2 separate regions of the Homo sapiens genome follow, and region 2 is linked to region 1. Evidence: fine-mapped expression QTL. A gene starts in region 1. The other region holds a variant in brackets. All regions are shown on one strand. Distances are between the middles of the regions.

Region 1 (5,388 bases):
TAAAATTGAAATGACATTATTGACTTGACTTTGTCATCTTCTGTTTATTTCTGATGGTGGCTCGAAGTTTACGTATTACCAGTCTATCAGGTAGAATCATATCACCTTGTTGTTCTAGATAATCCAATAAATTTTCAGTCCACTGGAGGGCAGCTGCATGATTAATATGTTTCTCTGGAATTAGTTCTATTTCCTCCTCCTCATTTTCACTGGATTCATCTGCCTGGCCTTGTGCTCTTCTGATGATTTCGCTATCAGTTAACACTTCATAGCCTGGTTCAGTACTGTCTACTTCAAGCCATTTTTCAAGGTTCTCAGTAGTCACATTTTCCAATCCTTTGGTGTGTTGTAAAATGGCAGCCACAGTAGCCACAGAAATATCTTCAACATCAAAGTCCAGGCTCTCTTTCTCCTCTACCATAGGGAGAATCTTCTTCCATGCTCTGCTAATGGTAACTGGTTTTACTAAGTTCCATGCCATTGCTATTTCATAAAGTGCATCCAACAGAGTTAGCTTCTTCCAGAATGATTTCAGGTCATTACCTTCTTCCAAGTTGTTCTGGAGAAGACCTGCACGATAATTTCTCTTCATCGTTGCTATGACTCCCTGATCTGAAGGCTGAATCAATGAGGCCACATTAGGTGGTAAATATTTAGCAAATATTTGGCCATCATCTGACCTTAGGACATTTTCATTTGGATGTGTTGGTGAATTATCCAACAAGAGCACAGCCTTTTCCTGCAAGCCTTTAGATCTTAAATACTCTCGAACTTGCGGCACAAAAATTTTATCAAACCATTGTCGGAAAATGGAAAGATCCATCCATGCACCTTTTTGGCTGAAATAAGAGACTGGCAGGTTTAAGGTGTCAGTTGATTTAAAGGAGCGAGGTTTCTTTGCTTTCCCCACAACACAAAGTTTAAGTTTGTGTAAACCTGTTGCATTGGCACAACACATGATTGTGACTCTTTCTTCAATTGATTTGTGCCCAGGGACAGTGCATTTACCTTTGATTACTGAAATCCTAGAAGGCAAGCACTTCCAAAAGAGTCCAGTTTCATCTGCATTGTAGATTTGTTCAGGCTGTAAATTCTCTCGTTCAATAAAATCTCGAAAGTTATTACAAAAATCTTCCACCGCAGTCTCATCTCCATTTAATCTTTCATTTCTAATGTTAATCTCTCTAATGCTGTGCCGCTGCTTAAAACGAGTTAGCCAACCGGCAGAGGGGTTAAAATCACCATCCATTCCCAAAGCATAAAAGAAGAACTCTGCCCTTTTTGCACAAATTGGTCCAGATATGGGATTCCCTTTTGCTCTTTGCTGGTTGAACCATTCCAGCATTGCCCTGTCCAATTCCTCATACATGGATGGCTTCATAGATTTCCTCTTGGCCAAAAGACTTGTGGAATCAGAACTGCTTGCATAAGTTATAATCTTTTCCTTATTTTTTCTTATATCCCGAACTGTTGTTTCACCAATTCCATAAATCACTGCCAGTTGTTTGGAAGAACCTCCGTCTTCAAGTTTCTTTATTATATCAAGCTTATCTTTAATAGTCAACACCACACGCTTCCGTTTCCCTGACATAGCGAGGTTCTGGGACTCACCCCACACTCACAATGTAGCAATCCACAAAATCCTTCCTTCTCTTACACAGGCTCACTTCAACAGTCTTAACACACTCAGTCTTTCATCCTTACCAGCAACCTGGTGGCCCTGATCCCCTCCCGGGCTGGGGTTGGCTGGCAAATAGACTGCAGAAGAAGGTGAAAGAGGAGGAAGTTTGAGAGAACAGGCCTTTCTTTAACTTATACGGGCAGTAGCGGAGGCCCCATGTCACCGCGGATAATCCGGATTAAAAGCATGTGTTTTATTACCCCAGCAGCCGTGAGAAAGACTATACCCCCATTGTGGCCACGAACCTCCTGCACGTCCAGATCCCGGGTAACCGCGCGTCACTAACCCCTGCCACACCCCAAAGTTACGACAGAGAGCCGAAGAGCCTAGGAGTCAAGGACTGGCACCCTTCCTCAGGGGAACGGATATATTAGATTCCTTCCCCAGCAGCAGGGCCCTCCCGCCGCGCAGCCCCAGTTTCCCGCGCCAGCTTTAGCCGGGACAGTCCTCCCAGTCCCTCAAAACCCGCCAGGCCCCTCTCCCCACCTCTCTTGCAACCAGGACCCGCACAGCTCCCTGACTATCGCGCGGCAGTCGCTCCGCCCCTAGCCACGCTCCCGGAAGATGATCCCTCCCGCCGCCTGGCCCCACCCCTCGCCCCACCCAGAGGCGGGACTTCCCTTGGTCCCCGGAAGGGGGGGAGGAGCATCGCTTGTCCTGAGCTGGTTGCCGGGGCAGGGGCGGAGGCGGAGGCAGAGGTGGAGGCGCTTTGAAAGGTGAGAGCGCGAGGGCGGTGCGGGGCTGTCTCCCGGCTGGGACTCGCTCGCGCTCCCGGTGCTAATGGTTTATGAGAGGGGCGGGGGAAGCCGTGCCTCCTCGCGGACTAAGAGAAAAATTCCCGCGGGCGCTCTTTGGGTGGGCCGGAGAACGCCCCTCAGCCCTTTGCGCCTCTAACCCTCCTCAGCTGAGCTGCAGTGGGCGCGGTGCCCGTTATTTCCGCCTTGGGGAGGTGCTTGGAACTGATGTAGGGAGCTCGGTTGGTGATTTCTCGGGTTTCTGGCCTTTCCAGACCCTTGTAATTGTTTTCTCGGTGCAGAGCTCTTTTGGGGTCTGGGGGTTTCCGTCGTCCTGCGCGCGTCATCGCGAAGCTTGGCCTGAGGGTCCGGTTTCCTAGCTACTGTGCCCCTCCCTCCTGGAGGCAGAGTGACGGACTAGTGGGCTAGCGGGCGCTGGGTTCCTGCGTCCCGCCAAAGAGGTTTGTAATCATGAAAGTCACCCTTCCGGGTGTTAATTCCTGAGAGGATCTATTCCACTGTCTACCACTCATTCCTGCTGCATTAACCTTCATTGTTAACGGATTTTAATGAATAATATAGTTATCCCGGATACCATGCTGGCAGGATCCACTTTGCGAAATTGTGGACTGTTGGACTGTGATTCTAAGTGGGGGAAATAGGCTTTCCTCTCTTTATGTTTATTTTCTTATATCCTATTTCTGTCATGTTCTGTCTTGTTTTCCTGCCAATAGAAGAACTATGATAAATTTATTCATAGCAGTGTGATAAGAACTTGATCTTAATCATACACTGTAGCCCTCAAATCGTGTATTATGCTGGCTTGTTTTTGGTGTCCCTAGTAATTTCATCAGATTGTGAGCTCCTTGGGAGCAGAGACCATGTTTATTTGAAATGGTGGCAGCACAGTTCCTAGCAGGTGCTTGCATTTTGGTAGATATTCAATAATTATTTTTCGGCTTATTAATCTTTGCTCTCCAAACTGCCATATAAAAGAAAACATCGAAGAGGAGTGATGTTTTACACCCAAGAATGGATCCCTCCTGGTAGAATTTCAAATAATGACCTGGGGTTCCACTGCCTTTCAAATCTGTAAAGTGTTAACTACCACCTGCATTGTTTATACAGCAAGTAGGTGATTTCTAGAATGAATCTTTTCTTGAGTATGAATTAACCTCAAAGTTTAGAAGGAACTATATTTCTTCTGATGAGAAAGTCAAATGGCATCATCAAAGTACTTTTAGCTATAGAGTTACTGTGTTAGAGAAAGAACACAAGCAATATGGATTATTGTCTTTAATATATATTCTTTGGCAGATAACATAGCTATGTATGTGCATCTTATATTAACCATGAAACACAAAGATGTGATAGTATTGATCATCTTCATTCACTTATTTAATGCTTTCTGTTTGGAGTCTCTGTTTTTCTCTTTGCTTAAAGGTAAGGTATCATTACAGAAGCTCGATAAAATTCTCATTTCAGGAAATTAAGTGTATATTCAACATATACAGAAGTAACATTCATTTGCATGGATTCTCTTTTGAGTAGATTCTGAAGACCAAGAGGTATCTTACCCATCAAACTAGCTTTCCTTCACATTTCTCTTCCGAGGTTCACTCACCTTTTCCCTCCGTTATCATTCTTCCCTTCCCAGCTAATATAGTAAAGCTACCTACAATTTAAAAAGAAGAGCCAAACATATTCAAAGTGTCTTTCCTTTTCAGTAACAGAATTTTTTACCTTACTGATATAAATGGTCATTTTGAAATATGAGAGACCCTGGCAATTTGGCAGTTGGTCCAATGAAACCTGATTTATTTTGTTTAAATAAAAGATGCTGCCTCAGGCATTCAAATTCTGCAGTTTTCCAAAATATGTTTCTCATCAGAGACTGCCTTTCTTTGAAATTTTACTTTTGGGCTCACTGGGGACTCCTTTAAATTTTGCAATTGGTGTTATTAATAAGATGATAAGAGGGAAGTCTGCAAATACTCTTTTCTTGCCTGGTGGATAATAATTTACAGAAGTTTCTGGCCTAACTCGTGCAGTAAAATTCGGTTACATAATTTTTTAAAAAAGCATATTTGTAAACTCTAAACCATTTTAATCGTTATTTTTCTGAAACTAAAATACAGCATGAATGAGAGATAAAAATAATGATTTTTAAAGGCTTAATTTTTACTATCTTGTACAAATGTGATATTGGCAGCCGTCATTGTGTGGCACTGGACGGGGAATCAAGAGACCCGGTTTCTAATCCCTGCTCTGTCACTAACAAGCTGCGTGATCTTCGGTAAGTCATTTAAACTCTATGTCCTTGGCTTTGATATTTACACATAAAAATAGATATCTTCCTTCTAGGATCATTGTCAGGATTTAAAAATCAATGTGAAAATGCACTAAAAACTTAAAGTTTCTTTTATGGCTTAACTGTGCAGTCATAAGTTTTTAATAGTGTGATTCTTAATCATTTCCACCATTGTCATAGGAATCACCTGTTTCATGATAAATAACTGACATTCTGGGCATGTTATAGTTTTGTAAGATAATCATCTAGTGTATATGAATTTGCTTTTGGGTACTAATAAAAATCATCGTTAACTTTAATGTTCTTTACTGTCCATATTTGCTTTAGTGTATCTACTGCAACCATATTTGTCATTGTTTTCATAAATGTTTTTTCATTATTTCTCCCAATTCAAACAGGTTTATTAGAAAGCCATGCTTTGTTATTACAATGTGATATACTACACGTGCACATATGCACACTTAGCTTACGCAAATTTATGTGTTTACAAATACTTTTTTGTACTATACAGCTTAAAAATGTAAGATGCCTAGTTCGTGTGGTGCTAAACCAAAGAAACAGTAAGCTGCTTAAAACCTGGAGGAGAAACTGGGTGGACGTATTGTAACGCAGTATAGTGTACACAAAACCATACTTTAATATAGAGATTTTTTTAAAGGGTA
Region 2 (5,388 bases), 31 kb before region 1:
ATAATTATAAGTCTCATCTACAAATTCTTTAATTCATCTTTCCTAAAAACTAACAGAAGCCAAAATCTGTAAACCTGTTATCATTTTATTAGAAACTCAAACAAGTGGGGATCTATTGTCACGGATGTTTTAAGAATTTAAGTCTCACAACAAACCATTCCATCTTATGAATTAGATAAAGAGAGTTCTGGTGAAGATTCATTGCAAAAAACTGTGATTATTCACTGAAATTGCAATCTGTATTGAGATAAGAGGTTGATTTTACCATAGTGATAATTAGCTTATCACCTCACTAACGTAGTTCAAATAAACCAAACAAATATAACAATTACGCAGATTTTCTTAAAACTAGAGAAATTGCTAAATGTCACTTAAAGTTGTCAAAATTAATTTTACAGATAAAAAGAAAATGGTTAAACAAGTTATAACACAATTCAAAATTTCAATTAGCCTAGATTGATGGATACACTGATCTAAAAACATAGAAAAGTAGTGTTGCTTGGAAATACAGTGTTTAGATTTACCAAAATTTTTAATAGTGGTAGATTCTAGACCTGGGATAAGAGTACACATGAATGACATGGTAAGGAAGAATAACACAATAGAAGAGCTAGACAGAATTTTAAGAAATACCTTCATTTTAATGAAAAGGCAGGGGGAGAGGAGTCTATGAAGGAAAACAAGAAAGAATAGACAGACGAGTGTTGTTAAGGCATTTAAGAACGTCCACCATTACTTCTTCCATCTCACTGTAATCACTACACTTGGTCTAGACTTAAAATTGAAGGACTATAAGCAAATCAGAATCAGTGTGCCAGGCATAGTTTCTCTTCCTAGAAAGGTTATATGACATATGGCTAATAACACCAAATTGAAAATAAGCACAAAATATAGCCTTTTTGAGCAGCCCTTTTGCATCATCTTTTTGCAGCATAGTTAATAAATCATTTTAAATGGACAGAAGAGGAAAAGGTCAATCTGTTGTCCCAAGTGCAGAAATGGCCACAAATGTCTACGAAATTCAATACAAAAGGTCATTGAAAGAGAATCACATTATCTGTCTTGTTAAATTTGTTAACAAATTCTTATTAAATTTGGGTTGACTTTCTAGATTATATAATTGGGTATATTTTGATGGCCAAATATACTTCTTTGAAACTAGAGGAATCAAATAAAAGGCTTATATGCCAATAACCATCATACCCAGTGTAAAAGCAAGATCCCTAAGGGTTGGAACAGTGCCTAACATATAGTAAATTAGGCAATCCTTGGTGTTCTCAGGGGATTGGTTCCAGGACCCCTTCAGATGCCAAATTCTACAGATGTTCAAGTCCATCATACAAAATAGCTGTTATATTTGCATATAACCTATGCACATCCTATCATATACTTTAAATCATGTCTAGATTACTTATAATACCTATACTTTAATAGATTACTTATAATACCTAATGCATGAATGAAAGCTTCTGAAAGCATTTGTATTGCTCTTTGGTAATTTGCTCTGTCCCCATACCTTCAATGTGAAGGAATCATGGAGTCTCAAAGTTGAAAAGAGCATCTCATCAAACAGCCCATATGGTCTAGCCAATTGGCTGTCTAATCAATCTTTTAACTCTACTAGTGATGGAAACTCAATACTTCTGGAGGAAGTCCATTATGTGGCAACAACTCTAGTGTCAAGTTGACCCTTTTATTGAGTCACAAACTAATTCTCTGTTGTCAGTTGATCCATAGAGAAATAAACAAAACATATTTGTTGTGTGTTACCATGGGCTAAAAGCAATATATACCATGGGCTAAAAGCAATATATATGTCCACTGCTAAATTCTAAGTACCTAGAGCAGTGTCTGCCATATTTAAGGCTTCTGTAAATATTCACTAAATGTTATGTTATTATGAATATCCACTTAATTCATTATTGCCATTAGACTATTTACATACCTTTTTTTTTTAACATTGACTCCCACAAACCACATTCTTCCTCTCTTTACACTTTGCAGTTTGGCAGATATGGATGAAAGGAAATCACCAAACAGCCAAACAGTCATTTTAATAAACTTTATCTTGTTAGAGGATGGAATGTATAACAGTCATACTTGCATTTTTAAGTACTATTTTTTGTGTATGTTATTAAGTGTTAAGGATTAGAAAAAAGGTATTCTAATCTAGTAAATAGAAAATAAATGCCCTGTGTGTCTACCTTTATTTTAAAGCATTTTTATTTCAACTTCTATTATATATATGTGTGTGTGTGTGTGTGTGTGTGTTCATTTTTAATTATTGGGGTACACAGTTGTATATATATTTATGGGGTATATGGGATATTTTGATACAGGTATACAATGTGTAATCATTACATCAGGGTAAACGAGGCATTTAACACCTCAAGCATTTATCCTTTGTGTTAGAATTAAATTATTTTAAAATGTACAGTTAAATTATTATTGAATATAGTCACCCAGTTGTTTTATCAAATACTAAATCTTATTCATTCTTTCTATTTTTTATACCCACTAACCATTCTCCCTTCCCCCTGCCTCACCCATTTCCCAGCCTCTGGTAACCATCATTCTACTCTTGGTGTCCATGAGTTCAACTGCTTTCATTTTTAGCTCCAACAAATAAGGGAGAACATGCAATGTTTGTCTTTCTATCCCTGGCTTGTTTCACTTAACACAATCACTTCCAGTTTTGTCCATGTTGTTGCAAATGACAAGATCTCATTCTATTTTATGGCTGAATAGTACTCCTTTGTGTATACATACCGCATTTTCTTTATCCATTCATCTGTTGACAGACACTTTAGTTGCTTTCAAATCTTAGGTATTGTAAATAGTGCCACAATACACATGGGAGTGCAGCTATATCTTTGATACACTGATTTTTTTTTCTTTTTGTTTTATGCCTAGCAGTGGGATTACTGGATCATATGGTAGTCTATTTTGGGACTTTTTCAAGGAACTTCCAAACTGTTCTCCATAGTGGTTGTACGAATTTACATTCCCATTAACAGTGTATGAGAGTTCCCTTTTCTCCACGTCCTCACCAGCATCTGTTATTACCTGTCTTTTGGATAAAAGCCATTTTAACTGGGGTGAGATGATATCTCATTGTAGTTGTGATTTGCATTTCTCTGATGATCAGTGATGTTGAGCACATTTTCATATACCTGTTTGCCACTTG[T/G]GTGTCTTCTGTTGAGAAACATCTATTCAAATCTTTTGCTCATTTTTAATCAGGTTATTCAATTTTTTTCCTATAGAGTGGTTTGAGCTCCTTATATCCTCTGGTTATCAATCCCTTGTCAGATGGAGAGTTTACAAGTATTTTCTCCCTTTGTGTGGGTTTTCTCTTCACTTTGTTGATTGTTTCCTTTGCTATGCCAAAGCTTTTTAATTCGATGTGATCACATTTATCCATTTTTGCTTTGGTTGCCTGTGTTTATGGGGTATTACTCAAGAAATGTTTGCCTAATCCAATGACCTGGAGAGTTTCCCCAAAGTTTTCTTTAAGTAGTTTTATAGTTTGAGGTCTTAGATTGAACTCTTTCATTTTGATTTCATTTTTGTATTTGGCAAGAGATAGGGGTCCAGTTTCCTTCTGCTATGTATGATGGATATCCAGATTTCCCAGCACTGTTTGTTAAAGAGACTGTCCTTTCCCCAGTGTATATTTTTGGCACCTTTATCAAAAATGATTGCTCTGTAGATGTATGCATTTGTTTTTTGGTCCTCAATTCTATTCCATTGGTCTATGTGTCTGTTTTTATGCCAGTACCACGCTGTTTTGGTTACTATAGCTCTGTAGAATAATTTGAAGTCAAGTAATGTGAGTTGTATGAACATTTTAACAATTTTGATTCTTCTAGTCTATTAAAATGAATATCTTTCTATTTTGTGTGTGTGTCGTCTTCAATTTCTTGCATCAATGTTTTATACTTTTCTTTGTAGCTGTATTAGTCCATTCTCACACTGCTATGAAGAAATACCCCCAACTGGGTAATTTATAAAGGAAAGAGGTTTAATTGACTCACAGTTCCACATTGCTGGGGAGGCCTCAGAAAACTTACAATCATGGTGGAAGACAAAGGATAAGCAGGCACCTTCTTTACAGGGAAGCAGGACGGAGTAAGTACAAGCAGGGGAAATGCCAGGCGCTTATAAAACCATCAGATCTTGTGAGACTCACTCACTATCACAAAAACAGTGTAGGGGAAACCACCCCCATCATCCAATTACCTCCACCTGGTCCTGCCCTTGACATGTGGGAATTATGGGGATTACAATTCAAGGTGAGATGTGGGTGAGCACACAGAGCCAGACCATATCTGTAGTGATTTTTCACTTCTTTGGTTAAGTTAATTCCTGTGTATTTTTTTGTAGTACTGTAAATGGTACTACTTTCTTTTTTTCTTTTTCAGCTTGTTCACTGTTGGCATATAGAAATACTACTGATTTTGGTATGTTGAGTTTGTATCCTGCAACTTGATTGAATTTGTTTATCAGTTCTAATAGGTTTTTGGTCAAGTCTTTAGGTTTTTCCAAATATAAGATCACATCATCTGGAAACAAGGATAATTTTACTGTTTCCTTTACAATTTGGATGTCATTTATTTCTTTCCCATGTCTGACTACTCTACCGCGGACTTCCAGTTGAATTACAGTGGTAAACGTGGGCATCCTTGTCATGTTCCAGATCTTAGCAGAAAGTCTTTCAGTTTTCCCTCAGTCAGTATAATATTAGCTGCGGGTCTGTCATAGCTTTTATTACTTTGTGGTACAGTCCTTATATACCCAGTTTTTGAGGCTTTTTATCATTAATGGATGTTGAATTTAATCAAACGCTTTCTCAGTATCAGTTGAAATGATCACATGGTTTTTGTCCTTCATTCTGTTATATGCTGTATCACATTGATTGTTTTGTGTATGTTGAACCATCTTTGCATCCCTGGGATAAATCTCCCTTGGTCATGATTAATGGTCTTTTTAACTGGTGATCTTTTTAGTTGCTGAATTCAGTTTGCTGGTATCTTGTTGAGGATTTTTGCATCAATGTTCATCAGGGATATTGGCTTGTAGTTTTCTTTTTTTGATGTATCTTTGTTTGGTTTCAATACAGGGTAATATGAGCTTCATATAATGAGTTCAAAAGTATTCCCTTATCTATTTTTTTGGAATAGTTTGGTGGGATTAGTATTACTTCTTCTTTAAATGTTTGGTATTATTCAGCAGTGAAGCCTTTGGGTCCCAGAATTTTCTTTGCTGGGAGATTTGTTTAAATTACAGCTTCAATCTCATGACTTGTTATTTGACTATTCAAGTGGTACATCTTCTTGGTTCAATCTTGGTGGGTTGTATGTATCTAGGAATTTGTTCATTTCTTCTAGG

The links. PIP is the estimated chance that this variant, and not a neighbour inherited with it, causes the effect. A credible set is the group of variants that fine-mapping cannot tell apart.
Region 2: its variant is the best candidate, but not a certain one, in a credible set for the expression of CCDC82 in spinal cord (GTEx, PIP 0.90).

Annotation. Positions count from the first base shown.
Region 1 is chr11:96,386,853-96,392,240 of GRCh38, reverse strand. CCDC82 (coiled-coil domain containing 82) reads left to right here and starts at 2,329. Exons shown (of 10, transcript NM_024725.4): 1 at 2,329-2,397; 2 at 4,628-4,711. JRKL (JRK like) reads right to left here and starts at 2,228. Exons shown (of 2, transcript NM_001261833.2): 1 at 2,168-2,228; 2 at 1-1,758. The coding sequence starts at 1,591. The coding sequence ends at 17. RefSeq lists a silencer at 2,156-2,415.
Region 2 is chr11:96,417,828-96,423,215 of GRCh38, reverse strand. No RefSeq gene overlaps it. Among named protein-coding and RNA genes, the nearest start is that of JRKL, 31 kb to the right of the region's middle. The variant T/G (reference allele first, on the strand shown) is at 3,188.